7 linked regions of the Homo sapiens genome follow. The protein of the gene in region 2 interacts with the protein of the main gene of each other region in a pairwise test. Each region holds a gene or a part of one and is shown on either strand. Other genes may lie near its edges. The genes, in order: CDK8, MLH3, SFRP2, STX17, TBC1D2, MAP2K1 and ZNF510.

What was found.
Region 1: the proteins of MLH3 (region 2) and CDK8 interact in a two-hybrid assay, tested with the Homo sapiens proteins (one large-scale study listed by BioGRID and IntAct).
Region 3: the proteins of MLH3 (region 2) and SFRP2 interact in a two-hybrid assay, tested with the Homo sapiens proteins (one large-scale study listed by BioGRID and IntAct).
Region 4: the proteins of MLH3 (region 2) and STX17 interact in a two-hybrid assay, tested with the Homo sapiens proteins (one large-scale study listed by BioGRID and IntAct).
Region 5: the proteins of MLH3 (region 2) and TBC1D2 interact in a two-hybrid assay, tested with the Homo sapiens proteins (one large-scale study listed by BioGRID and IntAct).
Region 6: the proteins of MLH3 (region 2) and MAP2K1 interact in a two-hybrid assay, tested with the Homo sapiens proteins (one large-scale study listed by BioGRID and IntAct).
Region 7: the proteins of MLH3 (region 2) and ZNF510 interact in a two-hybrid assay, tested with the Homo sapiens proteins (one large-scale study listed by BioGRID and IntAct).

The regions. Positions count from the first base shown.
Region 1 is NC_000013.11:26,389,599-26,394,198, reverse strand, and holds part of CDK8 (cyclin-dependent kinase 8), read right to left. Parts: intron 833-4,600; coding exon 689-832; intron 1-688.
Region 2 is NC_000014.9:75,030,592-75,034,489, forward strand, and holds part of MLH3 (DNA mismatch repair protein Mlh3), read right to left. Parts: intron 2,900-3,898; coding exon 2,828-2,899; intron 1,589-2,827; coding exon 1,477-1,588; intron 125-1,476; coding exon of another isoform or gene 112-124; coding exon 1-111. UniProt on the Homo sapiens protein: Probably involved in the repair of mismatches in DNA.
Region 3 is NC_000004.12:153,779,411-153,783,507, forward strand, and holds the end of SFRP2 (secreted frizzled-related protein 2 precursor), read right to left. Parts: intron 2,346-4,097; coding exon 2,041-2,345; 3' UTR 1,181-2,040; downstream 1-1,180. UniProt on the Homo sapiens protein: Soluble frizzled-related proteins (sFRPS) function as modulators of Wnt signaling through direct interaction with Wnts. They have a role in regulating cell growth and differentiation in specific cell types.
Region 4 is NC_000009.12:99,965,153-99,969,752, forward strand, and holds part of STX17 (syntaxin-17), read left to right. Parts: intron 1-2,500; coding exon 2,501-2,587; intron 2,588-3,281; coding exon 3,282-3,521; 3' UTR 3,522-4,600. UniProt on the Homo sapiens protein: SNAREs, soluble N-ethylmaleimide-sensitive factor-attachment protein receptors, are essential proteins for fusion of cellular membranes.
Region 5 is NC_000009.12:98,206,050-98,210,649, forward strand, and holds part of TBC1D2 (TBC1 domain family member 2A), read right to left. Parts: intron 3,096-4,600; coding exon 2,619-3,095; intron 1-2,618. UniProt on the Homo sapiens protein: Acts as a GTPase-activating protein for RAB7A. Signal effector acting as a linker between RAC1 and RAB7A, leading to RAB7A inactivation and subsequent inhibition of cadherin degradation and reduced cell-cell adhesion.
Region 6 is NC_000015.10:66,393,412-66,396,911, reverse strand, and holds part of MAP2K1 (dual specificity mitogen-activated protein kinase kinase 1), read right to left. Parts: intron 1-3,500. UniProt on the Homo sapiens protein: Dual specificity protein kinase which acts as an essential component of the MAP kinase signal transduction pathway.
Region 7 is NC_000009.12:96,771,005-96,775,604, forward strand, and holds part of ZNF510 (zinc finger protein 510), read right to left. Parts: intron 3,843-4,600; coding exon 3,784-3,842; intron 1-3,783. UniProt on the Homo sapiens protein: May be involved in transcriptional regulation.

The sequences.
Region 1 (4,600 bases), on a different chromosome or scaffold from region 2:
TTAGGTGTTTTAAACAAATTCTCATTATTCTGGACCTCTGAGCAGTTTTTGGTGATTACCGTTCTGTAATATAACTAGGGATTGAGATACAGTTGGAGAGATCTAATACCAGGGATAGGATACATGTAAACCATCTCTCTGTTGCAAAACAGCAGGCTAACTCACCATAGGGTACTATGACTCTCACCCACATTGTGACTGTTCTAAGAGAAGACTTAAATGCTATTATTCAATATAATGTGATTCTGTATAGTGCCCTAAATAGAAATAAGGTTCAAAATTTATATTTGAATGCCAAATAGTGGCAGTATTATATGTGCTGCCAGAAAAAAATTCCTACTACTGAATTCATTTATAGTTTCTACTGGTAAGAGCTAAAGGTACCTTTTTAATACAGATATTGAACATATTTTATCATTTCAAATACCAAATAACAAAACAAAAAAGTAAAACAAGATGAAACAAAAATACAGTCCTGAAATTCAGGAAACCCATAAATATTTCCATGCCAATATGTAAACTCTACAAATTTTGCTGTTTCTACGGATCTTTGATAAATGCAAGTCAAAAAACAAAGACTCAAGTAAAAGTAGCTTCCATCAGCTAAAAATATATACCTCTCCAACGAAGACATCTAAGTTCAAACAACAGTGATTTAAAAACAAAAACAAAAACGAATAATGTGTACCTGCAGGAAATCCCATTACATTGAATATTCTGTCCAGCTGGTCATGGTGATAAGGATTACTAGTTTTGATGTCCTCTTGTCGACAGTGAAATATTGGTTCTGACGTTAGTAGTTCTGCAAATATACACCCTATAGCCCAAATATCTTTAAAACAAAAAGAAAAAAAAAAAGAAAGAAAAATAGGCAAGGAAAAAAGAAAAAGAAAGGTGCAAAATAAAGTGGTTCTTTCCAAAAGAAAATGCAATTTTATTTTCTTGGGGAGTGTTTTTTTCTTTCTTTCCCTAATAACTCATATTAATTCCTAAGCAATTATAATTACTAAATACCATGAAACATTATTATAAGTATATATTCCCATGCCCTCCACCCCGATTTTTCATTCTGTATACCTCCATACCACCCAAATGGTTTCACTCTAAGCCCAATTAAATGTACTGGCTGGATTTTGGTGAGTTTTCAATGTCCAGGTGATACCTTTTCTGTGAACTACAGTAAAGCTGCATATGGAGCATGGGAACTACAACCAAAGAAAACTAAACAAAAACAAACGGAAAACCCAAACAGTATTTGAAATTGGGCACTCGCCTAACATAATCAGTGTAAATTTTTGTGATAAAATATTTTTTATTTTATTTACTTGCTAATTTGCAAGGTCTAATAATTACCCTCTCATGTTAGCACTAATCAGTAAGGTGGTATTCCACCAAGAGACAATGTCCGACCTCAAAACGCCTAAGAATTAACAGCATTTCTACTTTAACAAAGTTTTTTTTCCAAAGTGGTTCTTGATGCCATAAGCAGTATCAGATTTTGCAAATTTAAGTATTTAATGCAAAGGACAGGAAGCAAAAGCAAAATATTACTGTTAACATGGATTATAAATTCGGCCGGGTGTGGTGGCTCATGCCTATAATCCCAGCATGTTGGGAGGCTGAGGAGGACGGATCACGAGGTCAGGAAATCAAGACCAGCCTGGCCAACATAGTTAAATCCTGTCTCTACTAAAAATACAAAAATTAGCTGGGCATGGCGGCACGCGGCTATAGTCCCAGCTACTCAGGAGGCTGAGGCAGGAGAATTGCTTGAACCCGGGAGGCAGAGGCTGCAGTGAGCCGAGATCGCGCCACTGCACTCTTGCCTGGGCGACAGAGCAAGACTCCGTCTCAAAAAAAAAAAAAAAAAAAAAGGGTTATAAATTCAAATGAATTATTGACAAAAGCCAGGCAAATGGGTTTCTCTGTACACAACAAAGTAAATTCCTTTCATTCACAAGATACAGATTTACTTTCATTCAAATTAAATTTGTACTCAAAAGAACTATTAGTAGAGGTAAGATCTATTTGCCAATTTAGAATTTAAAGCTGAAAATATTTCATTTCTACTCTTAACAAATCCTAAACTAAGTACAATGGTGTGCATATAGCAGACCCTCAACACATGGTTTTTGACTGACTTAACCAATACCTGTGACAAATATAAATAACCAAAGGGAACAAATCAAAATTACTATTTTATCAAAGCTGATTGTTCAGATATGTTAATAACTGTCACTTAAACAGGAAATAAGAAAAAACCTAAAATGAGAATTCCTAAATTCCAAAACTGGAATAGAGATATTTAATTTAATCTAAAATTTCACATATTTACATTTCAAAGTAACAAGTTAATCACCTATTTACTTAAAGATTCACACTGACTGCAGCAAGTGATTTTAAAAAATGACATCGTATTTACATATCAGAGAACCAAGCCTAGCCAATACCATCATATGGAAAAGTCTCATCAAGAAACATAGGCCAACCTATTTTGTTTTTGTCATCGAAAGGTATATGGGAAAATTAATTATTTTGTGATTATTCTTTTTATATGGGTATACCCTATAAATCTAACCTTTGATAATCAATGGCCACATAGGCAGCTAAGTAGGATCACAAAAAGGGATGATGGATGGCTTTGCATGTTTAAAATTCTACTTACAGCACACCCAATAAACACTGTAACAATTCATCTGGTTAGTTATTAAAAATTCCAAAGAAGAAAATAAAATATGTAAAGGAAGATGAAAGGTAAGTAGTTTAGCTATAATTAAAGCTACACTGCTCTTAGCTGAGCATACTGGCATATGCCTGTAGTCCCAGCTACTCAGGAGGCTGAGGCGGGAGGATCGCTTGAGCCCAGGAGTTTGAATCCAGCCTTGACAACATAGCAAGACCCTATTTCACAGAAAAAATGTATGCAAAGCTACACTGCTTTTTAAAGAAAAAGTCCAGTCAACAGGAAAAATAACTTATTGAACCTTGCTTAACTCCCTCCCATCTAGTAACTCTTCTGTCTTTATAACTGCTATTCTCTCTCACCTTTGTCAATTTTACCATTCTTCCTTTCTTCAAAATCCTGACCCATACATTAATCATTAACTCTGAGTCAGCTGATCAGGCTATTATTGCAGATAAATTTCTAATTATTGTAAATAAGTTTCTTTTTCCTACCTTGTTTTTTTTTTTTTTTTAGATTGTGCCCAATTCATGGAAAGTCTCTTTAGTGTTCACCTGCCTGCCAAACTCCTTATAAAATGGCTTTCCAAATTAAAAACATATAAGTTTCATCTACTTCTCAAAATGTGTGATGCTTATAGGTAGCTACTGAGCTAACCAGGCAAAGGAAATAGTAGGAATTGGCATGCTATACAGACCAAATTTGGGAGGAGAAAAGACTTTGCTCAATAATATTTGAATCAACAAGTGTAGTAATAGCAAGCTTCTTGTTTTGATAAAAGGGAAGAAATTCTCATTTTCTCTATTTTAATGTGTATTTCCCACTTAGCAGAATGCCTCACATTTAGTGGCCATGCAGCTATTTGAGGACAAACACCTGAGCTTAAAAGTCCATACTTCAGTAAGACTTTTAGGACTACTTTAGTGGCACTGAATTAGAGATTGATATCCCTTTTTTTAGCCTTTTCCCCAAAGTAAATCAGACAAACAAAAATAAAAAACAAAACACTCAAAAGTGAATTAAACTTAGTTCCTGGGATTACAATGTTTACTAACCTATTATTTCCTCTCTTTGGTTTAGTGACTCAGCTTGCAGTTCTGCACAACGGAATAAACCAGCACAGCACTACAATCTGTTTGTAGTAGATGGGGCATATGTGAGTTTGATGCGTTCTGATCAGATTTTTTTCCCTATGCTTTTGCTCCTTCTTAGTAGCTTCGTAACAGATGTAACCCCTTCATTAAATGGAATGTATTCAGCAAATTATCTGTATGTTCAACTAGAAAGGCTCTTCTATCACCTGCTCACAATTCAGCTATCAAACAAGGAAGTCAAAATGCTGGGGAAGTTCTTGGTAAGCAGCTTTAATGGTGGTGTGAGAAATTTGTTGAGTATTTTAATCTTTAGGCTACCTCTGCAGGAGACAGGAGGAATGGGATTGTGTGGTAGAGGCTGGTATTAAAGAAAAGGTTCCATTTTGTAATTCCTTCTTATTTTTATTTTATTTTTACTTTTTATGAGTCAGAGCCTAGCTCTGCCACCCAGGCTGAAGTGCAGTAGCGTGATCTCTGCTCACTGCAACCTCCGCCTCTCAGGTTCAAGCAATTCTCCTGCCTCAGCTTCCTGAGCAGCTGGGATTACAGGTGCCCGCCACCATGCCTGGCTAATTTTTGTATTTTTAGTAGAGACGGAGTTTCACCATGTTGGTGAGGGTGGTCTCGAACCCCTGACCTCAAGTGATCTGCCCACCTTGGCCTCCCAAAGTGCTGGGATTACAGGTGTGAGCCACCGTGCCTGACCTTATTTTTAGAAACTTAAATTGAAAGTGGTTTGTGTATATTATAAATTTTGAATCAATGTTTCAATAGAAGAAAGTGTTCCCCAAGACTGATCTTGGGCAAGCAGGTGTACACCAGA
Region 2 (3,898 bases):
GCTTCTCTTTCCACAAAACATAGTGGTACTTTTCCCACAAGGACCAGAGAATCACTAGTGTCTGGAAATACAAATTCAAGGCCCAGATCTTCCAGATTTTTGTGGTAACACCTAAAGAGATAACCTCAAATGTTAAAAAAAAAAAGAGTGCTACTTCATTTGCACTTCACTACTGGTTCCAAATACTACTTAATAGTTTTTCAAAAGCTGCCACAGGGCTTAACAACCGTATTGTTTTTCTCACACTTATGTGTGGGTGTTTGGGATTTTTTATTATCAAATTTCCTTTTTGAATTACAGTAACCTTTATTGTTTTTCTCTTTTCCATTGGGAATCAATCTGTGTCTAAGTCTTGTTTCTAAGTGTGTTTTCTTCATTGAGGAACTGCTAACTTCTGGCTGCTGGCACTTAAGGGAGTCTGGCATGAAGAAAAGGTCTGAGAGTGATTTGAATCAGCATTAAAGCAGGGAGGTAATTAACAGCCCAAGGAATTGAGAAGTCCTGACTAACGGGATGTAAGTAAATAGATCTGCCTCTAATATAAATTATGTCATAGGGAAAAAAAGATTTACTGGCAGTATCATATTCCCAAACCTGAAACATATTGGGAGAAATTTCTTTTTCATTTTCAATAATTTGTGCTGCCTAGAAGAGGAAAAATATCCTATCTTGTGACTCACTATATGATTCGCCCCTTCCTTACATCCCAATGTTTTACTTTCTTCCCATTATGATTACGATAATGAAAACTAAGAGTCTAGAATGCACCAAAGCAAAGCAGAATGGGACCAATTACTGCAGAAACTTTGCTTTCACAAAGCATGGCATAAACACAGACTGTTCCAAGAAATGAGAAGAGTGTTCTAAGCCAACTGCTGGAAAAAATTATCAGGGAAACTCTATCCTATACTCTTCAGCTGGGATACAGTGGAAAGAATAGGCTGGGTCCAGTGGCTCACGCCTGTAATCCCAGCACTTTGGGAGGCCAAAGTGGGAGGATCGCTTGAGCCTAGGAGTTCAGACCAGCCTGGGTAACATGGCGAAAACCCATCTCTACCAAAAAATTACAAAAATTAGTCCAGCATGGTGGTGCTCACCTGTAGTTCCAGGTACTTGGGAGGCTGAAGTGGGAGGACTGCTTGAGCCTGGAAGGTGGAGGTTGCAGTGAGCAGAGATTGTGCCACTGCACTCCAGCCTGGACAACAGAGTGAGACCATGTCTCACAAAATAAATATTTTAATGGATGATTGGATGCAGAAAAAAATATATTTTAAAAAAGGAAACAAACAGCCTGTGGAGTCAGACGACCTGCCTTTGAGTGCCTGCTCCACTACTTAATAACTGCTATGACCTTAGACAAGTCTTGTAACCTCTCTTGGTCTCATCTGAGAAATGGAACAATAGTTATGCTTATTCCTCACAGAATTATTGTGAGAATTGATACCATCAACATCACATTCTCATGGTGGTACTGACCATAAGAGTCTCCTTTGTTCCTCTGTCACTGTTATCTCTAGCGGAGGAATTAGAGTAGAAGACAGTAATTTTTTCCGACCAGAGCCTTGTGCCTGTTGCTTCTCGTAGGAATCTATTGGCAGAAAGATGAATGGGTTAAGAGTAGGAAGGGAAGTCTTCTAGATTCAGATAAAAATAAAGCACGGCCTTGAGATAATCATTCTAATGCAAAGCAGAATGTTTAATGTTCAGTTTTAGATTTTGGATTTCCATTTTTAAAGTCAAACTAATAAATATTCAGCCTATTAACAATTTTGGTAGTATTTTTCAAAATAAGAAATATAAGACTTGCATCTTACATTCAGATGAACAAGCCAATGTTCCTGTAGTTAATAAATGTTGTTTTGATGACAGAGGTGAATAATGTGGATTACCAGGAACATATGTGGGTTGACCACACAGTCTTATGGCTCCAGAAGGCTTCCCTTTCCTTGAGCAGGGTCTCCCAGTCTCTGGAGAGAATTAGTACTATTCTCAAATGGTGCAGGGCCTGTAGAGGTAAGTTTTTCTAACACTGTTTTTACTATATCTTTCCCAACTCTTAGGCCGTCATTTTATAAGGAAAAGTGAAAACAGTAGTAATATCATTGCCATTCTAGTCCATGAAGCACTCCTTAGGTCCTTGCCTAACTCTTTGACATTACTCATTGGCCACAGGAGTAAAGACTTTCCTGGTATTTTACCACTTGGTGAACACACTGCCTCATGATGAGGAAAAGGGTAGCAAAAAAAAACATTTAAAAAGCATATATTGCTTTGGAAAGATAGATTTAAAAACCAGAGATATTGGTTGTCTCTGGGGAGAGAAACTAGGAGGGGTGGGGACAAGGATAGAAAGGAGACTTTATTATATTCCCTTTTGTGCCTTTCAGAATTGGATCTATTTGATTATACTGCATATTCAAAAGCAAACTAAATTTTAAAATCAAAACAGCATACTGGGCCTTCTGAGCTGCCACTGGTCTCTGCCTGATGGAGTGTGGGAAGGCATGCCAAGATCACCGGGCATATGGAGGGGCAGAGCTTTGTGCTGGATGTCAGAGTAAGCAGCCTATCCTTGCGTACTTCTGGGTTGTTAATAACATCTGGCAAATATGCCTCTGACCACATAAATAAGTTCACATCTTTCAATTAGTGAACTACCACATTCTTTCAATTATAACACAGGCCAAACTGCAGGACTTTAGTTTAATTTTTGAACATACAGTACAAAGTGTGCTTTCTCACAACAGTTGCAGTTAGAAAAGCTCTTTGAGGTGTACTGATTCTGCTGGGAGTCTCAAATTTTTTCTGGCTGCAAACAGATCCTTACCAATGATAAGCTGCTCCAGACGTATACGCTCATGGGCAGCGTGCTGATCCACCAGCACGAGCAGGTTCCCACCTAGATGAGCAAGGATTGTGAACTTTGATTCTCAGAGCAAGACGACAACCATCATGTGTGTTGAGGACAGAGAAGACTTAATTCAAACTATCTAACAACAGCATAAGACAAAACATTCTGAGGAGTAACAATTGTATCTTTTATTTCCTAAAACATGAAATTATGGGGAAAATGATAGCAAACTTATCCCATATGTTTGAATCCCAGATCCAATTCTGAAAGGCACAAAAGGGAATTTAATAAAGTCTCCTTTATACTCTTGCCCCCACCCCTTCTAGTTTCTCTCTCCAGAGATTACCAGTATTACTAATTTTTATCCTATAAGTTTTATTATTTTCCCCATAATTTCATTTTTTAGGAAACAAAAGGTAAACTAAGAAACTCTTTAGTTCACCAGCATCTCATTTAGAAAACATAGTCAGGGCTGGGTGCAGTGTCTCACACCTGTAATCCCAGCACACTGGGAGGCTGAGGCGGGCGGATCATGAGGTCAAGAAATCGAGATCATCCTGGCCAACATGGTGAAACCCTGTCTCTACTAAAAATACAAAAATTAGCTGGGTGTGGTGGCACGCGCCTGTAGTTCCAGCTACTTGGGAGGCTGAGGCAGGAGAATCGCTTGAACCCAGGAGGTGTAGGTTGCAGTGAGCCGAGATTGCACCACTGCACTCCAGCCTGGTGACAGAGTGAGACTCCATCTTAAAAAAAAAAAAAAAAGTCAAAGTGGCATTTCCTCAAGTTTGAAGCTTGAATATATAATTCTTATGTTTAAATACTGATTTTGCCTTATTAATTCAACTTTAATATGATAAAGGATCGTTAAACAACACATTGTTATAATCAGCTAACCTTGGTGTACAAGCTACTTGGAAACCCACAAAGAATGTACTTCCAGTGCACTTTAGATCACAAGCCGGAGAACGTTTTCTGAAGGGCCAGATCATAAATATTTTAGGCTTTTTGGGCCACACGATTTCTGTCATGCCTACTCAACAATTC
Region 3 (4,097 bases), on a different chromosome or scaffold from region 2:
ATAGACTGTGTATACAGTAGTGGTCCCATAGAATTATAATGGAGCTGCCCTATACAGGTGTACCATATTTTATCTTTTATACCATATTTTTCCGTACCTTTTCTATATTTAGATATGTTTAGAAACACAAGTACTTACCATTGTGTTACAGTTGACTACAGTATTAAGTACAGTAACATGCTGTACAGGTCTGTAGCCTAGGAGCAATAGACTCTACTCTATAGCCTAGATGTGTAGTAGGCTATACCATCTAGGACTGTGTGTGTACACTCTACGATGTTCACTGAATGACAAAATGGTTTCACAATGTGTTTCTCAGAACACTCCCCTGTTTTTAAGTGAAACATGACTATATATGACAAGAGGCAGACATTTGGGTGATGCCAGAGCTGCTAACTCCTCAAAACATGACCAAAGGTTGAGCCCCATGAATAGGATTAGTGCCCTTTTAAAATAGGCTAGAGGGAGTTTGTTCACCCTTTCTGCCACGTGAGGACACAGCAAGAAGGCACCATCTGTGAAGCAGAAAGCCCTCATTAGACACCAAAATCTGCCGCCACCTTGATCTTGGACTTTGCAGCCTCTGGAACTGTCAGAAGTAAATTTCTGTTGTTTATAAACTACCCAGTATATGGTATTTTGTTATAGCAGTTGGAAAGGACTAAGAGACATTTAATGGACAGATGTCTGTCTCTCCTTTTTTACCCTAGTTCAAGTTTTCACCATCCCCTTCCTCCTCCTTGCATTCCAGTGGATACTCTCCAAATCATGGCTCTCTCTATCTGAGGGTTAGATTTGAGTCGGGGAAGGAATTAACATTTTTGCAGTGGTGATTCTTTTTCGGTATGAAAAATCTCAGGAAATGAAAAGCACAACTGTAAAGCTCATAAACCTTAAGTTTAGGGTAATGTTTCCACATAGCTGCAGCTGGACTGCTCAGAAGGGTCAAAAGAAGGCAACCCCTTTCTAGAGGCTGCAAGTCGCTGCTTCCACAGGGTGAAAGTGGTGAAATCTGTGAGATGTGGGGCATGGTGGTGGAGGGGGAGACACTTTCTGAGTCACTTGAGAAGTAGATCACTTTAAACTGCTGGAGGGCTGGGCTCATGGAAGGAAGTGACCACCCATACATAGCTCCATTCCCAGTTCCTTTTACTAAGAAGACAAGACAGAAGACAAAGAATAGGTAAAACAGGATGTAAAGTTTATATACAAGAATATAATGTTTATCTGAAATATTTACAGTGTTGGTTAAAGCAATATTTTTACAACTTTTAAAGGTAAACTACTATGTATATTACAGGTAAGCTACAATGGGTTTAATTTGCAAAAGTTAAGTAAGAAATGTTTTAAACAAGGCTTAAAGTACTCAAGTCAATTATAAAATTTATATCTTTTGCCTTTTACTTGAAGAAATCATGCTATAGAAATGGTTAATGTGCTTCTAATAAATGGAAGTATTGTAGCTGGAATGTGATACATGTAACAGTTTAAGTTCCCATTGAAGGTATAAAATGATGAATTGTTGTAAGACTTAGACACTGAGTCTCAGTCTGGAGCTGATGAAGATGTTGAGATAACAGCCAGCTTTATCTCAACAGGGTTTGTGACCCACAAGTTTGGGCCACAGAGAAAATTGAAGCAATTTGCATGTTATGACAACCTCAGTGGGAAGTGAAAATCAGCTGACTCAAAACAACAAACAACAACCAACCAGACCCAAGTCACAGTTGCACCTATTCAAAACTAGCTTTAAAGTGAGCTATTTTTAAACTTCATAAAAATATTCATGATTTTATTAGTTTGAATATTTCTACAAGATTCGGGTGGGCTTTTCCTTTAGGTGAAAACAGCTATCCACTCCTGTGGCCTTATAACTCAGGAAATGCTGGGGATGCAAACGTGCAAAAGGCAGGGGGAAGCTGCCCAGGCTGAGACTGGAGCAGCTAGGAGTGTGCTTGGGGAACGGGAGCTGAGATCCCGGAGCAGAAATGGTCAGCCGTGCTCTGGAGCAGGCCTGTCGGAGCCATCAGGATGCCGGGACTAGCACTGCAGCTTGCGGATGCTGCGGGAGATGCGCTTGAACTCTCTCTGCCCCTTCTGCCACCGCTTCACCGAGGTGATCACCAGCTCCCCACCCTGTTTCTGTCCCATGACCAGATAGGGCGCGTTGATGTCGTTCATCTCCTCACAGGTGCACTGCAAGCTGTCTTTGAGCCACAGCACCGATTTCTTCAGGTCCCTTTCGGACACACCGTTCAGCTTGTAAATGGTCTTGCTCTTGGTCTCCAGGATGATTTTGGTATCTCGGTTGATGTAGGTTATCTCCTTCACTTTTATTTTCAGTGCTATGAGGGAGGGCAGAAAGAGTCATGCCAGTTATAATGAGGGAATACAGTATACCTCCCCCCATTCTGCCAACTCGTGTGACTTGGCCTGGATGAGGAAAGAGAGGCTTCCTAGAGCTAATGGGACCCTCAGAGGCTGCAGATCGGGGGTTGGGAGCTAGGGGCAGCAGGTGGCTCCACTGCTAAAGCCTCAAAGCATTTGCCAGGCACTTGGTTTCCAATCAGCCATTTTTTCAAAACTCTCTCTTTGCGGGACTCAATTAACTTTTCTTCTCCTTTCCTCACTCACCCTTGTGTTTGTAAGAAAGTTGCATGTGGTGTGTGCTCTCTCCAACAAATGACTTCCTCTGTTGGAAACTTAAGCATGAAAAGAAATGCCTGACTTTTAGGTGAAATATGATCCCTCTGTGGCCGTAAAGTTTAAACTCAATTTATTATGCAAGAGGTTTTTGGACAAACCTGTAAGGAAACTGTGTCACGCAATCATTGTTTTCTAAAGATCAGATTACAGGGAAGGAGAATTGATCTTACAGCTGCATTTGATTTGGTAAAGCAGGAGAAACAATATGCAAGTCTCTTTTTAACAGCACAACGTGGTTAGTCATAAAAGTGTTTTTCTGAAGACCTCATCCTTATATGCTCTCATTTGCCAGTCCAAGGCCAAGGCGTTTACGGATCATATATGTACTGTTTCCAAAATGTATATGTAGACTCGTTAGAATGCGAAGACCAAAAGTAAGTGGTTTACTATAAAGGACACGTTTTATAGTCATGAACAGTATGCTCTGGGAAAGAAAGCCCTACAAACGTGTATGCTGGAATTAAATTTCAAGACTCCATGAAAGCAGGAAAAGAATAGAATTTTAAGGTTAGAAGGGATCATCCCATTAAAATTGCTTGTTAATACACAAAGAATCTTAAATCCAGAGAAGTTTAGTGACTTGCATGAGGTCACCCAGTTTAGGTTGTTTGCTAGAACTCCAGTTGCCAAACCTCCTCCTGTAATACCACTGTGGTGTCTTGAGGCAATGTCCATGTTTTTGTAGTGGTTGCAGCATAAACTTGCCCAGCTGCAATGTGTCCTAAGACCCTGTGTGCCCCTGACAGCTATTCTGTATAGATGATGTGTAAGTATGACTTCCTGACTTTGATGGAGTTTAATCTATGTTTAAATTAGTAATAGAGGAAGATTTTTCTGTGTTGCGTACAACTGTTTTTGAGATTTTCTTTTTTTTTTTTTTAAATATCAGAATGGGAATTTGACTGAGTATGGCTTTCTAGTCAACCAGGAAATTATAGAATCTCTAGCAGGTAAATCAAAAATGCTATGACTTGGCCAACCATGGTTTTGTCTGGTATGATATGCATCTGAACTGTGGTACTGAATTCTCAGTTTTTGAGACTCAAGTCGTGGAATAAGCCATACTTGTGGAAATGTTTCATGCTTTTGTGTCCTCTGCATTGGGAGTAGGGTGTTGGATAGACCTCACCATGGTGGGAGAAATGGACTGATTACACTTTACCTGGGAGCCTTGTCTGTAGTACAGGTAGGGCATATATAAGATTTCACCTGGCCAAATGAAACATTCTCAAGCTCCAAACATCAGAAAAAACCATCACTTTTAACCAGGAGGAAGATTTTTTAGTCATCTTTGTCTAGCTCTAAAATAACTAATTTTGCAAATGTTTATCATGAGAAAACATTAGGGATTTTCTCCCTGGATTTTCAGCTAGGCCCAAACAGAGAGAATT
Region 4 (4,600 bases), on a different chromosome or scaffold from region 2:
AACTTTGTAGTTCAAATAATTAGTGATCTCAGGATTGGTTTTTTGCCTGTGGTTGCTTCTTCAGTTATTCCAAATGATTTTTATGAAAAAATATTTAAATTATTTTAAAATTTTGCTTTAATTTTTAAAAAGTCATAGAAGTACAATATCCAACCCTTTTTAAAGGAAGGAACATTAGAAAGTATTTCCCTGAGGCTTTACGATTACACTTGGGGTATAGAAATGGCAATAATCCTGGCAGGCTCCTCCCTCTTGCTGGAATTATTTTGGGGCTGAAGGAAGGGAGACACTGACTATTTTTCCTCTACCTTTCAACTCATCAACATATGACGGCTGATGGTAGAGTTTTAAGCCTGTGATTTATCTGCTAGCATAGACTGTTTCAGGCAAGAGTGGAAAGTGTTGGGGGTGTCCTAAATAGAAACAATGATAGGGTGTCAGAAATCTAGACAAGTTGTATATTATTAGTGCTGGAACTTTTTCTTCTATGGGTCAGAAAAAGAAAGCTGACTTAAATAAGTTTTGCTATTGAGGAAAATAAAAATTGAATGATTGAATGAATGCTAAAAGATACCTGAAGTTTTAGTGTCCTAGAATTTTCAAGCACCGAAAGAAAAAGTTAAATATATTTTTTGATAGAGAGATGAGAGTTAACACTTCCTTGGGGAAATTAGGATAAATTTTTCTATTTTTCCCCCCTCACACTTTGCAAACACATTTTATCCCCACTTCAACTCTATGAAGGTATAAGTATCACTATTCTTACTTGATAAATGAGAATACCAACACCTAGAGAGCTTGAGTAATTTGTCTAAGAGCACATAGTGGCGTTTGCTGAGATTTGAACACAGATTATCTGACTAAAGGTGGTGCCCTTGATCTGAGCACATATAATAGTGGTTCTTAAAGTGTGAGAATTGTGGACTGGCAGCATCAGCATCACCTGGGAGCTTACTAGCTCAGGCTTCATCCCAGGCCTACTGGATCAGAAACTCCGGGGATTAGGCCCAGCAATCTGTGTTTTAAGAAGCCTCCAGGTGGAAGACTGAGAACCATTGTTAAAGTTGTCTCTCACAGAGACATTCAAAGGAAAACTGATAAGGGACTTTCTTAGGCATTGTTTTAGAGATGTCAAGATAGTGGTGGAGAATATTGGAATGAAGGGATACCACAATGGCGAAGATAGACATATTTTGTGTATGAGAAGGGAAGTAATATCAGTAATGCTAAGAGGAAACAAACATGGGGAAAAAGTAGCTGTGTGGTTTGGGCTTCATGTTTTCAAATGAAATAATGGTTGGAATTAGAAAAGTGTTGTATGTGTCTGCCTCAATATAAATGAATAGGCCAATTATATAAGGGCAATCAAACACTTCAGGATTAAAGTTGAATTATTTCACCCTCATTGCAGGTGGCATCTATCTAGGATCAAAGAGAGATTCTCTTTTTTCTGCACATTAAAAAAACAAAACCAAAATAGTCTGTAAACTGTGATGGTTGATTATATGTTGGCTTATACATTTGTTGTTTATACATTTGTGATAGTTGGTTTATACATTTGCTAAATTTCATCATACTATACCATTAAAAGCAGTACTTGTTATATGTAAATTCTATCTAAATAAAGTTGAATTAAAAATGGGAATGTGTTCCTACAGCAAGTAATGAGTTCGTGTCACTGGAGGTATCTGAGCAGAGGTTCAGTAACCACTTGTCAGGAATGTTACAGTAGGGCTTCGCACATCAGAGAGGAGATTGACCTGATGACCTCAACATTCCTTCTACCCAGAGATTCCATGAGTCACAGTTGCTGTTGTGCCAGCACAGGTGTTGCCATTTTATGTAGAATGCTTTATTAATATATTTGATCTGAAACATTTTAAACTGTCATGATTTTAAAATGTATTAAGATACACAGGTGTAAAGCACAGAACAGTGATTTCATTCACTGTTCCCTACTGCATATTACAAATGGAAAGATCTCATAATAGATCAAACCGTATTGTAGTCTTGTTCCTGAAACATAACAATTTGTATTTATTGGACCAAGGGCATTTTACTCCTAAGGTAAATGTGCCTGATTTAAACTGAATCCTCAAAGAAGGTAAGTTAGGGAGGTATTTTGGGGTTTGATTTTGTTGGGTTTTTTTTTTCCATCAAACCCAACATGACATGTAAATGCTTATTTGGATTTTTTTTTTCTGGAAAGTAGATTCATTTGGAGAATAATATGTTTGTATGTTTGAGTGAATTTTAGCGTGAGATGCTTTTTGCTGTAAAGTTGCCACCCTTTTATTACCTAATAATTAAGACCCCCCCCTTTTTTTTATGAAAGTTAATTTGTCCTTTCGACATGGCTTATCAGATGCTATTAATGAACCACTATTAAGATGGCAAGGCTGCAGTACCCAGGGCCCTGATTACAGGAATTAAAATAGTGTGTGTTGGCTCCCTGCTGCTCCCCAGCAGGACCGCTCACTCATAATTCCTTTGCATCTAGTCTCAGCAGGAGAAGATTGACAGCATTGCAGACCATGTCAACAGTGCTGCTGTGAATGTTGAAGAGGGAACCAAAAACTTAGGGAAGGTAAGATTCTGCTCCTGCTGACAAATCAATGGTACTCTGGCTCCCAGGAATCTCTAGTATTAACCCAATTGATCTGCTCTCTTCAATGTTGAGGGAACCAGCAATTAAGGAAATAAGGAAGAAATGACACATAGGTAGTGTAAGAAATCAATGTTGTAATATTCTACTCTAAGATTCATTCTATCAGGAGAGGAATTTCTTCAAAGAGAGAATAAACTGTAGCTCTGCTGTAAGGCATTTGGTGTTACCAGGGAATATTTGCAGAGGGTAAAAGTGTAAGTATGTGACAGCACACATGGAGTGGGACCATCTATTTTCCATAGGATGTTGCTTTTAACCCCAGGCACACAGCACTGAATAATTTCTGTGCAACATAAAAGCTTTGGGGGAAATCTGTGGCTGCCGAAACAGTTTAAATAAGCCAGCTAGATAGTTAGTGAATTGATTGTTTTGCAAGTAAAATCAATTTGTAGCAGTCCACTCTTTGTAGCTCAGCTCTCTAAGTTCTGAGATCTGGAGCAATTGCAGTACCTGTGGAATACTTTCTTTTCCCCCCTACAAGTACAGTCTCTAAGGTTAATTATGTACCAAGAGTTAAAGAGGCATTGCCAGGAGTAATGAGAGGAAAACGCACATCACCACAGGCAGATATTCTCAACTCAGTTTCTAAATTGAATTTTTTTTTTTTTTACAGGCTGCAAAATACAAGCTGGCAGCTCTGCCTGTGGCAGGTGCACTCATCGGGGGAATGGTAGGGGGTCCTATTGGCCTCCTTGCAGGCTTCAAAGTGGCAGGAATTGCAGCTGCACTTGGTGGTGGGGTGTTGGGCTTCACAGGTGGAAAATTGATACAAAGAAAGAAACAGAAAATGATGGAGAAGCTCACTTCCAGCTGTCCAGATCTTCCCAGCCAAACTGACAAGAAATGCAGTTAAAAACCAAATTTCAGTATTATTGGTGCCAACATGTCTATCCTGAGGACCTTTGCTGCTGTTGGACACTCCGTCACCTTTTGGAACACAAGTATATCAAGATAGTGGCTACTGATGTTCAAGTGGGATTGAAGTGTGATAAATGGATATATTTTGTTGTTTGCTGGGGTGTTCATGGAGATGTTAAGAGATTGAGGCCCTGGGCTGAGGGTATATAATGTATGTCAGGTAAAGTTTGAAGACTGCCAAGGAGCAGATTTTCTCCCTGGAAATGTGAAAACTGAACCTATAACTCTGATAAGGACTTGAGATGTGTAGAAACGTTGGGTTATGGAAGACTAGTTTCTTCCATAACCCTGAATTGGAGACCTTAATGCTAAGTGTAGATTATTGAGGTTTGTTAGTGAGGAAAAGAATAAGAGTTCAGAAGCCTTTGTTATCAGATAGCGAAATCAGGGCCTAGTGAGGAGCACAGGTCGACTACATAATGGAGTCCATTGGCGAACCCTATTGCAATTTGGTCCAACTATATCTTCTGGTGAAGGAAATTAATGATGTAAGAAAATGCAAGAGGCTCAACTTCTCTTCCAAAAATCTTCTGGCTTCTGAACTCTTCCTCTGCCTCTCTTTAAATAAATAACACAGAATTTCAAGTGGTAGGAGACTTATTAAGCCAGTCACCAAGCTTGGTCTGTCAGCCTGTCTTCTAACACCTCAAAGATCTTGTGCCCTGTGCTGTCCCTCCCTTGTAATTATGAAAAGTTCTTTGGTTTCTGGGGTGAATTCTACCCATGTATAATGAGGAATTCTCTCATAACCTTTTTTGTCTTGTCTGTCATCTCTGTTCATCCCTTCCTATAACCTCTAGGTAAAAAGAAAAGAAAAAAAGAAATTTCGAGATATTTTCAACATTGTTAGAGTTTGGGCTAAAATGAGCAAGGAGAAAAAAACCACCAAGAACATTTCCTGGGGCATGTTCCAGTTTTGAGGGGTGATATATCTGCCAGATAGGGGGTATCTGACCCAGTCTTCTTTTCAGCTGGTCTCTGGGGGGAGCTGAGAACTCGCTTGCTACCTCACAT
Region 5 (4,600 bases), on a different chromosome or scaffold from region 2:
GCGATCTCGGCTCACTGCAACCTCTGCCTCCCTGGTTCAAGTGATTCTCCTGCCTCAGCCTCCTGAGGCAGCTAATTGTTGTATTTTTAGTAGAGACAAGGTTTCACCATGTTGGCCAGGATGGTCTCGATCTTTTGACCTCGTGATCTGCCTGCCTCAGCCTCCCAAAGTGCTGGGATTACAGGCGTGAGCCACTGTGCCTGGCCTATTACAAGTAACTTTCTGTTTTAAGCAGTAAATATTTACATGAATACCAATTATCTGCATTTGCATATCAAATTTAAGTAAAAATGCTATTCAGAGAAAGATATTTTAGAAAACCCGTCTGGGGACCTTCCGCCTCTCTTGGCCTCAGTTGTCCCTTCTGCGCCTCTCTGTGGCCTGTGTGCTGCCTCCTTCCACACAGGGAGAAGCTTCTCTCCTCCTATGAGGCTTATCTCAAGTGCCCCTCCTGCCATAGGATTTTTCTCTGCCCCTTCAGCACAGGTTGAACTCCAAAAGCAGGTCTCGAGAAGGTTACATCCACATAGGGGAAAGGTTTCTGGGAGGCCTCAGCACAGCCTCTGACTACTGCTATTTGGAGAGAGAGCAGGTTGTAGAAAGGACTGGGTTTGGGGGCTGGGGGCGGGGGGCCAGGGTGAGCAGTTGGCTGGGTCAGCATTTGTGGTGAGACAACGGGCAGGTTCCTCAGCCTCTCAGACCCTCTCATGTCTCATCTGGGCATGGTGGCACCAGTGAAGGTTTTTGTGAGGATTAGATGCCATCAGGTGTTAAACACCTGGCATCCAAGAGGCCCCCATTATGCTTTACTTCCTACCTGGCTTTTGTGTGAAATGCAAAAATTATTATTCATTCTGATCTCATAGCTTCCAGCTCCCTTCACAGCTATTCTTAGAAGAGGCTTTGCAGGTTTTGTTTCTTCTGGATTTTAACATGTTCAAACAAATGAGAAGTACAGGGGCTTTTGTCAGACTGTTGAATGAATGAAATTTCTACAGACCTGACCTGTGGCAGACGTTTAGTGTGGCATGAAATCTGAACATATTTTCCAAGGAGGCTTCGACTGAGAGGCATTACTGTTGGAGTTTAACTCTTAATTCCCAGGAATTGTACATACACATGCTCAATTTCACCCAATTTTAGGCTGGAAATAGAGTATGAAAAATATCTACCTTTGGGAACCACTCAAATTTGAGTAAGGACACTGAATGTTGATTCTGTGTTAAATAAATGTCACACACCACCTATTCTAAAAAAAAGCAGCATGGCTTATGTAAATTTTGCTTAGGTATATGTGTGTTTAAATTAAATCGAGTGAAAACTTGCTTTGGGAAAATATTTGCAACTATGCAGCTTCTACTGAAATAGCTGGGGCTGGAGCGGGGGGATGACAGTCCCTCACAGTCTTGGAGGGGAGATAGCCCTGTGAACCAGGTGACCTCATCCCCTAACCCCAGTCCCTCCCTGCGTCCCCTACCAATTGGACCAGAAGTGGAAATTATTCCTGGCTGGGCCAATCAGATTTTTTCTTTGGGGAATTTAGAACTGGAACATGAGGGGTGGGGTGGGAAGACTCACTGAAAGGCTCAAGACTCAGGGGCTGAGGTCTCCATTCTAACAGCTTCGATGGTCCCTAAATGTCCAATGAATGAATGGACAGAGGCTGGTCTGCTGAGAGAGAAGGAAGCAGACACGCAGAATGAAGAGAGGCCAGAGGCCATGCAGCTGCAGAGGGCAGCAGAGCAGTACCTTGGTGCTATACGAGCTCAGGTCATGGCATCCCAGGACTGTGGCATGAAGGCTGCCCCCTGGGGTTGTGCAGGGGTGCAGCCCTGCTGCAGACAGCAGCTGCCTTGGCTTCCAATGACCATCTGGTCCTCAGCTGTGTTTTCTTTTCCTGGCTTCTGTGAACTCCCCTTGTAACATTTAGAAAGTCTCTTTTCCCCGGGTCTTCTGCATGGGTTTCACTGAAAGCGAATGATTCCTGATCCAGAGAGTCCTGCCATATGTGAGTGGGGCCTTACCCTGTAGATTCCAGCAGGCCAAAGTTTGAGAGGCCATGTAAGTTGTACGTCCCCAAGCACAAATCAAAGGAGAGAGCAGGGACGAGGGGCCTGGAGCTCTGAGCTCTGGCCCATCTCTGTCTTGAACATGTCCTCTCACCAGCCTGTGGGTGGGGAACCTAGGCTCATGTCTTCAGGTTCTTGGGAGGCTCCAAAGAGAGACAGCAGTGCTCTAAAACAACGGTCCCCAACCTTTTTGGCACTAGGGACCGGTTTCATGAAAGACAATTTTTCCATGGACTGGGGTAGGGGAGGGGTGGCTTTGAAACTGCTCCACCTCAGATCATCAGGCATTAGATTCTCATAAGGAACACATAACCTAGATCCCTCGCATGCAGAGTTCACAATAGGGTTCACGCTCCTGTGAGAATCTAATGCTGCCGCTGATCTGACAGGAGGCAGAGCTCAGGTGGTAATGCTCTCTCGCCCACTGCTCACCTCCTGCTGTGCGGCCCCTTAACAGGCCACAGATGGCTGCCTGTCCACAGTCTGAGGGTTGGGGACCTGCGCTCCAAAAGGTAAAGATCACACCTTCACTGGGCTTTGGTGGCTTACCTGTTCAGGCCCTGGCAGTAGCCGATGGTGGGGTTCTGCCAGGAGAAGGCCAGCAGCACCCGGCGGAGCTTGTCGGGGAAGCTGGAGGTGGGGCAGGTGAAGTGTTTGTTGTTGGGGAAGGTCCGGTTCAGGTCCAGCTCAATCTGGCGGGCAGCAGGGTGCTCGCGGGCCTGGCCCCGGCTCAGCAGTTCCTGGTAGCAGCCTGGAGTGTGCAGGTGCTGGACACGGAGGTGGACCAGCCACCTCCAGACACGAGGCCGGTGTTCACGGGGTACTCCTGCCCGCAGTAGCTGCTTGAGCTCGGCTGAGGGCACAAGATCGCCCAGGGCAGCCCAGCGCTCCCTCAGCGGCCGATCCACAGCCTCGAGGCCCAGCAGGTGGTGGGATCGTGACTCCAATGCCTGGATCTTGGCCAGCAGCTTCAGGTCTTCCACCTCATAGTCGGGCACCGTCAGGAAGCCGTACTCATCATACTTACTGCCAGCAAAAGTGCACGTTAGCAACACCTTGCAGAGCCCTTCCCTAGATAAGGGGTGGTGGTGACAGGGAGGACCCCAGGCCAGGTTCCTGCCCTGCCTTCACTGAGGGTTAACCACACAGCTCTGGGCAGGTCACTTCAGTTCTCCCAACCTCAGATTGCGAATCTGTATAATGCATATGGGAATCCCTGCTCTGCCTCCTAAAGACCCAACGAGATCCTCTGTTGTAAGATGCTGGGGGCCTAGATAGTGCCTGGTACACAGTAAATGCCCAAGAGATATTTACTAATTCTATGCAAATATAAAGGACCCTCTTATTACTCCATGCAGCCTTAGGCCCAAGGAGTCCTGCACTGTGCATACAGAACCCCACTTACCACAGCCAGTAAGCGCAGGGGTGGACGGGGAACAGACAGCACCAATGACAGACAGGTGGGACAGCTGGGGACCCGTTCCAGAAGGCCTTTGATTTATTCAATGTTGACTCACCTCCACTCTGTGCCCTGCCTGCACTATCTCATTTAATCCTAATGATCCTGCAAAGCAGGTGTGTTTGCCTAAATCTTTTTTTTTTCCTTCCTTCCTTCCTTCTTTCCTTTCCTTCCTTCCTTTCCTTCCTTCCTTCCTTCCTTCCTTCCTTCCTTCCTTTCTTTTTCTTTCTTTCTTTCCCTCCCTTCCCCCCTTCCTTTCTTTTCTTTTCTTTTCAGGGCCTCACTCTGTTGCCCAGGCTGGACTGCAGTGCTGCAATCTCAGCTCATTGCAGCTTCTACCTTCTGGGCTCAAGTGATCCTCCCACCTCAGCCTTCCGAGTAGCTGGGACTACAGGCGTGCACCACCACTCTTCTTTTTTTTTTTTTTTTGTAGAGACAGGATTCCAATATATTGCCCAGGCTGGGCTCAAACTCCTGGCCTCAAGCAATCTGCCCATCTCAGCCTCCCAAAGTGCTGGAATTACAGGCATGAGCCACTGTGCCCAGCTCTTTGCACATATCTTATGGAGGCTGAGTACGAGGCTCAGAAAGGTAAAGGGAATTGTCACACGGTGAGAGGGCCAGGGCTGGCTCCAAAGCTCGAGCTCCTGCCACTGGACTACTCAGCCTCCAGGGGCCTTCGAGCATAGCCACCCTCCTTTCTGTTATATTTAACTGCCCATGTCCACTGTGCTCAGCAAGGCCTTGGTGCAGAGGAGATGGCCTGCTTGTCTCCCCTCGTCCCCTCTCTGACAGGCACATCTGGGAGGCAGCCACATTTGGGAGGCAGCCTAGATAAATGGAAAGCATGGGGCTCTGGAGGCAGCCTGTGCCGCAAATGTACTATAGGGCCATGGCAGGGGGCTGCCTCCTCTGAGCGTGAACCATCTCAGCTGCAGCCGCACACTAATGCATGTGAAGATCAGAGGAGGTAGTGCTGTGTAGGACTTGTACATGGTTGGCAGGACCTGGCAGCAAGGCAGCTGGGGAGGAGCCGCCAGCTCACATAGACCAGCCCTTCCTGGGCCGCCAG
Region 6 (3,500 bases), on a different chromosome or scaffold from region 2:
GGAGTTCAAGACCAGCCTGGCCAACATGGTGAAACCCTGCCTCTACTAAAAATACAAAAATTAGCTGGGAGTGGTGGTGTGCGCCTATAATCATAGCTACTTGGGAGGCTGAGGCAGGAGAATCGCTTGAACCCAGGAGGCAGAGGTTGCAGTGAGCCGAGATCACGCCATTGCACTCCAGCTTGGGCAACAAGAGCAAAACTCTGTCTCAAAAAAAGAAAAAAGAACTATTATAACTAAGTAGGGAGTGATGTAACTGAGCATGGCATGGAGTTGCTCAGAAAAGACTACACACATTGGAGATAAGCTTTATGTAAGATCTTGAAAGATCGGTACCATCCGGGGCAGATACGGTGTCTCACGCCTGTAATCCCAGCACCTTGTGGGGCTGAGGCAGGCATATCACCTGAGGTCAGGAGTTCGAGACCAGCCTGACCAACATGGTGAAATCCTGTCTCTACTAAAAATAAAAAAATTAGCCGGCCATGGTGGTGTGTGCCTGTTATCATAGCTACTTGGGAGGCCGAGGCAGGAAAATGTGGGAGGCGGAGGTGGCCGTGAGCCAAGATCATGCCACTGCACTCCAGCCTGGATGAGAAGAGTGAAACTCCATCTCAAAAAAACAAAAGGGCCGGGCACGGTGACTCACACCTGTAATCCCAGCACTTTGGGAGGCCGAGGAGGGCGGATCACGACATCGAGGCCATCATTTTTAAATTTTGTACTAAAAATACAAAAATTAGCCAGATGTGGTGGCGCATACCTGTAGCCCAGCTACTTGGGAGGCTGAGGCAGGAGAATCGCTTGAACCCGGGAGGCATAGGTTGCACTGAGGCGAGATCGCGCCACTGCACTCCAGTCTGGGGACAGAGTGAGACTCATCTCCAAAAACAAAACAAAACAAAAAAGATGGGTACCATTTATTTTATTCTAGGCCCCACAGCAGACGGTGGAGAAATACCAGTACACAAGACAATCACAGTCCCTGTTTTCACAGAAGTTAAAGTGTAGTGGCAAGTATAAAACAAAAATAAAAACATGCAAGAGGGCCAGGCGCCTGTAATCCCAGCAGTTTGGGAGGCTGAGGCAGTGGATCACCTGAGGTCAGGGGTTCGAGACCAGGCTGGGCAACATGGTGAGACGCCGTCTCTACTAAAAATAACAAGAATTAGCCCGGCGTGGTGGTGTGCGCCTGTAATCCCAGCTACTCGGGAGGCTGAGGCACGATACTCACTTGAGCCCAGTGGGCAGAGGTTGCAGTGAGCCAAGATCATGTGACTGCACACTCTAGCCTGGGTGACAGAGTGAGACTCCGTCTCAAAAAAAAAAAAAAAAAAATCATGCAAGAAAGTGGAGGAGGGCATTTCAGACAAAAAAAAAAACCATGTCAGCAAGACCAGACAGATGTAAGAAGGTAAGCAACAGTATGCTGGTGGCACAGTGAGGAGAGTAAAGAAAGTGGTAAGTGGACCACAGCAGGTGAACGGAAAAACAGAGGAAAATTAAGCTAGATAGGCAAGGCAGGGCCAACAGCTACAGGAGTACCCACTTAAATGTAGTTTTGCTTTGACAATTCCAGTTACCCACAGTGAGTACAGTAACCACATTCATGTAACTGTCATTACAATATATTGTTATAATTCTTTTTTATTGGTTATTATTGTTAATCTCTTACTATGCCTAATTTATAAATTAAACTTCATCATAGGCATATACTGCATAGGAAAAAACACAGTATATGCAGGGTTTGGTACTATTGATATCTGTGGTTTCAGGCATCCACTAGGGGTCTTGGAACATATGCCACTCAGATAAGGGAGGACTACTGTACTCTACCACAGTATCTTCTTCCTTTCTTTGAAAGGTGCATAAATAAGTGAAACTGGAATTCTGTGAGTGTTTATATTCAAACAAGAGTCCCATATATTTCCTTGCCATGGGCTAAATCATCTTTAAGACTTTCTTTGCTATTACTGTATCTGCTGTAACAGCGGCAGAGATGTTCTTCCCAAAGACACAGGCTTAAGCAGGCCTTTTTCACATGAAGCTGTTCTGAAAGACAGCACCAGTATTAGTTACTGCATCAACTACCCAAAAGAAGCATCCAAGTTCAAAACTACAAAATCAGTGTGAAACCACTTCAAAAGCTCCTACTTATCAGGCCAGACATGGTGGCTCATGCCTGTAAACCCAGCACTTTTGGGAGGCCAAGGAGGGAGGATTGCATGAGGCAAGGAGTTTGAGCCCAGCCTGGGCAATACAGCAAGACCCTATCTCTAAATTTTAAAATTAGCCAGGCATGGTGGTACATGCCGGTAGTACTAGCTACTTAGGAGGCTGAAGCAGGAGGATTCCCTGAACCCAGGAGTTCAAGGTTATAGTGAGCACCAATGCACTCCAGCCTGAGTGTCTGAGCAAGACCCTGTCTCTCAAAAAAAAAAAAAAAAAAAAAGTTCCTGGTTATCATCATGGTACACATCTCAGAAAGAGCCATAAGAGACAAAAAAAAGCACATCAACCTGTCTCAACCTTTCTTCCTCCAGGGCCTTCACACTCTAACAGATGTGTGTTCCTTACAAACCTGGCAGAACTGCTGATGCTATGAACTACACCCTGAATGCAATAAGTAAGTCTGAGTGTTTCAGGGTTACATAGAAACAATTCAAAATCCAAAATCATGAACGCTACTAAGGCCAAGCAGTGAACCCTCCTAAGGTTATTCGGCACCTTATAGCCTTCAAAGAAATTTTATACATCTTCAAAGGTATTCCTCTGAGGTAGGATCTAGTCAATCATTTAATCAACAGGTATCTACTGAGTATTTTCTATGTGCCAGAATCTGTTCTACACACTGAGCAATGAACAAGGCAAAGCCCCAACCATCATGAAGCTTACACTTGGGGTGGCAGAAGAAGATAAATACTTATACACGATGTAACATCAGTTAGTGATCAGCGCTACAAAGAAAAATAAGGCAAAATCAAAGGGTAGAAAATGACAGGGAGTTCTGTATTACAGTGATCAAAGATGGCCTCTGTGAAGAGACATTTCAACAGAGGGGTGAAGGAAGTGAGGAAGCAAGTCATACGGTATTTGAGAGACAAGCTTTCCAGGCAGCAGGAATGGCAAATGCAAAGATTCTAAGATAAGAATGTGCCCAACCTACAACCCAACAGCACAAAGGACAGTGTGGCTAGAGTGCATGAGTGAAGAGAACACTGGAAGAAAACTAAGGACCTGGTCAGGTAGGGCCTTGTAGGCCACCATGGTAAAGATTTTGTAAACAATTATCACCTCCACTTTACAGATTAAGGAAACCAAGAGTCAGAAAGTAGAAAGGACTTGCCCAAGGTCAAAGAAAAAGTGAGATCTTGAGAGGTACCCTGCCTCACTACTGCAACTGGATTAACGGTATTGTTTTAAAGAAAGAGATTAATAGCCGGTGCGGTGGTTCACACCTGTAATCCCAGCACTTTGGGAGGCCAAGGAGGGCAGATCAC
Region 7 (4,600 bases), on a different chromosome or scaffold from region 2:
GGCACAAGAAAAACTCCAATGCTAGACTACCTCACAGGTATATTTTTCCAAACATTTAAGGATGAAATAACAGCAATCTTAAACTCATTCAGAGAACACAAAATGAATAACTGTTTCCAAACTCATTTTTTGAGAATATAATGTTGACGCCAAAACGTGACATGACATGACAGAAAAACTGCAAGCCAGTATCTTTCCATTAATGTAGACACAAAAATATTAATTGAAATATTAACAAATTGAATCCAGAAATAACTTAAAGTGATAGCACTACCTTATGTGGGAATTATCCCAGGAATGCAAGGTTGGTTAAACATTGATAAATCTATCAATATAATTCAGCTCTTTAACAGACTAAAGGAATAAAATAATATGATTATCTCACTAGAAGCAAGAATAGCCATCTGACAAAATACTCATGCATGATTAAAAAAAAAAAAACTCAGGAAACTAAAAATAAAAAAGGGAACTTCCTTATTCTAATTAAGGACATATACAAAAAACATGTAGTTAAAATAAGACTCAATGGTGAAATACTGAGTACCCCTCAGGTGAGGTATAAGACAAGGATTTCTATTATCACCATTTGTACTAAACATTTTACTGGAAGTCCTAGCAGTAAGGCTAAAAAGAAATTAAAGATATAAAAACTGTAAAGGAAGAAGTAAAATTGTCTTTATTGCAAAAAAAATTTTGCACATTTAAAATCCAAAAGAATCCACAGATAAGCTATTAGAATGAGTGAATTTTGTAAAATGCCTAGGTATAAGATCAATACTAAAAAAATCCATCGTATTTTAATAAACTAACAATAAACTGGAAAATGACATTTAAAATGCAGTATCATTTGTGCTATTATCAAAATAGATCAAATACCTAGGAATAAATATAATAAAAGATGTGAAAGACTTCACCTCTACTCTGAAAAACTTTCCATCAGGATTTTCTGTGAAAATTGATAAAACTTCCATGAACATGAAAAGGACCTAAAATAGTAAATAAATTCACAAAATTTGTGACTTACTATAAAGCAACAGTAATTATGACAGTGAAGTACTAGCAAAAAGATAAACTAATTGGACCAAAGGAAGAAAATATACAGTCTACATTAGACCCGCATACAAGTCACTTGACTGACAAAAAACAGCTGCAATTCAGTTGACAGAAGATGGTCTTTCTAACAAATGGTGCTAGAGCAACTGGATATCCGTATGGAAATATGAACCTTGACACTCACCTTATACCAAACACAAAAGCTAACTCTATGTAGATCAAGCTAAAATAAACAAGTATGTAGTAACAATATAGGAGAATATCTGATCTTAAGAGTAGGGAAAGAGCTTTCAAATATGATACACAAGGAACTGCCATTAAAGAAAAGACGATCTGACCTTTATTAAATGTAAAAACTTTGTTGTCAAATATATTATTTAAAAAATGAATAAGCAAGCCATGGAATCCAAGAACATCAGTAATGCACACATGGCAAAAAACATTTACTGAAAATATTGAAATAATTCCTACTTAAAAAAAGCAAATAACCCAATTAAAACAGAGTTGAATAGGTACTTTATATATTACATAAAAAGAAATGATGTCTAAATGTCCAAAACACAAACAATGGTGCCCAACATTAGTATTTACCATAGAAAAGCAAATTATAAATTTTGATAAGATACCACACTATACAGCCACCAAAATGGCTAAAAACAAAAAGATTGATAATAACAAGTGTTGCTCAGAATCTGGTACAGCCAGAATGCTAGTGGGAATGTAAACTGATTTGACCACTTAGGCAAGCTACTTGCAGTATGTATTAAAACTGAACATATGTTTATTCTATGAACCAGCAATTCCATTTCTAAGTATATCCCAAAAGCAATGAGGACATACCCAAAGACACAAAAGAATATTCACAGCAGCCTTATTCCTGATAGCCTCAAACAGGAAAAACAAATGAAAAAATGCACTAAGAGGAGAATGAGGAAATAAATTATGGTCTATTCATACAATGAAATACAGCCCAGTGATAAAAGGGAAATATTAAGATACAGAGCAAAACATTCCCTTGAAAACTGTAAAAGAATACACTTTGTATGATTCTACTGGTATCATATTCAAAAATGAATTTATCTTTTTTCCCTAACATATGAGGTCAGAATTGTGGTTGCCCTGTAGAGGGGAGCAGTGGTGTTATCTTAATCTGGGTACTAAATTACATGAATTTACATATGTAAAAATCCATCCAGTTACACACTTCAGAGTACACTTTACTGGTATTAAAACTGCATCTCAGTTAAAGAACTAAGTTTTTAAAAGGAAAAAAGAGTGCATACAAGAGAAACAAAAATTTAGCAAAATATATATAGTTGGTAATTTGGGAAGGTGGGAACATATTTATTATATTATTTCTTTGTATCTTTCTATATTTGAACAATTTCTCAATTCCTTACAGGAAAAGAAAATTTGGACATAGACTCATACAGAGGAAAGATGATGTGAGGACAGACATCTAAGCCACGGAGCAAGGCCCTTCCCTCACAGCTCTCAGAAGGAACCAAACCTGTTGACATCTGTTTTTTTTTTTTTGAGATGGAGTCTAGCTCTGTCGCCCAGGCTGGAGTGCAGTAGCACGATCTCAGCTCACTGCAGCCTCCGCCTCCCAGGTTCAAGCAATTCTCCTGCCTCAGCCTCCCGAGTAGCTGGGATTACAGGCACCCGCCACCACGCCCGGCTAATTTTTATATTTTTAGTAGAGACAGGGTTTCACCACGTTGGCCAGGCTGGTCTCGAACTCCTGACTTCAAGTGATCTGCTCTCCTTGGCCTCCCAAAGTGCTGGGATCACAGGCGTGAGCCACTGCACCCGGCCCCTGTTGACATCTTGATCTCAGACTTCACCCGGCCCCCGATGACATCTTGATCTCAGACTTCTGGTCTCCAGAATGGTGGGAAAATAAATTGCTGTTTAATCTACCCAGTCTGTGGTTCTTTATTATAGCAGCCCTAGCAAACTAATACTAAGGCTCTAACCTTTATCTCCCTCCCCTCTCTTATTATTCCCTAAGAGGAAGTCCAAACTGCAATAGGCAAAGATTCTTAATGGACCTTGCATGCCTTGTTTAGCCTGCTCTCAAAATGCAGTAATCTCCTGTACTGCAACAATGAAAACCTTACCCATTTTTCAGGACAAAATCCTTTTAAACTCTCCACCTCTGATCAACAGAGCCTACACCATCGATCTCTCCTTTCTTTGACAGTCTGTCTACCTGAACGTCTGTTTCCATTACCTGAAAAACTGTATTAATAATAAAACTGAAAAACTGTATTAATAAAAGCCTGAGTTTGGCACTAAGCCGTCTACTTCCACTGAGGAAAAAGCAGAAGCAACATACTGCATTTATTTCAAGGCTGTTATGAGAAAGATTTGCACTGACACATGAAGACCAACAAAGACATTTTCCCTGACTTTGATAACTTTAGATTCCATGAGGAATCAGCCTGGTTTTAAGCTTCTCATCAATGCAAATCTGTAAAAAAAATACTGTCTGTCTGGCTCTCTGCCATGGCTATCAGAAAGAATGAAAACTGCAGTTCCATTTTGGAAAATCTGTAACATCAGGCGACCTCCATCTTTCCACATGCCAATTCTGCTGTGCTACTGCCCTGCTTTTCTATATATTCCTTGAATGATTTTGATCCATTTCTACATTTCCATATTAATATGTGGACCCTTAAACACCTATGAAATCCATGATGAAAAAGGTATTAGTAATTAACTCACCTGAGATATGTTCATTTTCTGCTGCTCCTGAAAGAGTGTGGAGAACCGTAAAGGATAACCTGGGGGTGAGGAAGGAGTCATGAGAGATCTGGGCAGCCTCCATCTTACCTGCCTACCAATGTCATCACACCAGCTGGGGAAAAAGGCCTCTCTACAAAAAATGTTCCTTTGACCTTTGAGAAGGGACAAGCAGCACTACAGAGAAAGCACCTCCTGAATATGTGCATCTTTAATATGATCATGTGGATGAACCCTTGCTGTGTGTGTGTGTTTTTTTGTTTTTTTTTTTTGAGACAGGATCTGGCTCTGTTGCCCAGGCTGGAGTGCAGCGGTGTGATCTCAGTTCACTGCAACTTCTGCCTCCTGGGTTCATGCAATTCTCCCGTCTCAGCCTCCTGAGTTGCTGGGACCAAAGGCACCCACCACTACACCCAGCTAATTTTTGTATTTTTTGTAGAAATGGGGTTTCACCATGTAGCTTAGGCTGGTCTCGAACTCCTGACCTCAAGCAATCTGCCCGCCTTGGCCTCCCAAAATGCTGGGATTGCAGGGGTGAGCCACCAGGCCTGGCCCCTTGCTGTTTTTCATCAGGCGATTGTAGACTATTTTCCTATTGATTTATTTAAAATGTATGTCTTCTTTGACTAACAACTTAAACAGAATTAACATTAATATTCTGTTAATATTATTTACACCAATAGAAAACACAAAACTGAAAAAAAGGAGATGCTGAAAGACTATTTTAAAATATTTTTGTTCTAACTTATAGTTTCTCAAAAGACTTTCGATAAGACACTTCTGGTGACTCACCTGTGAC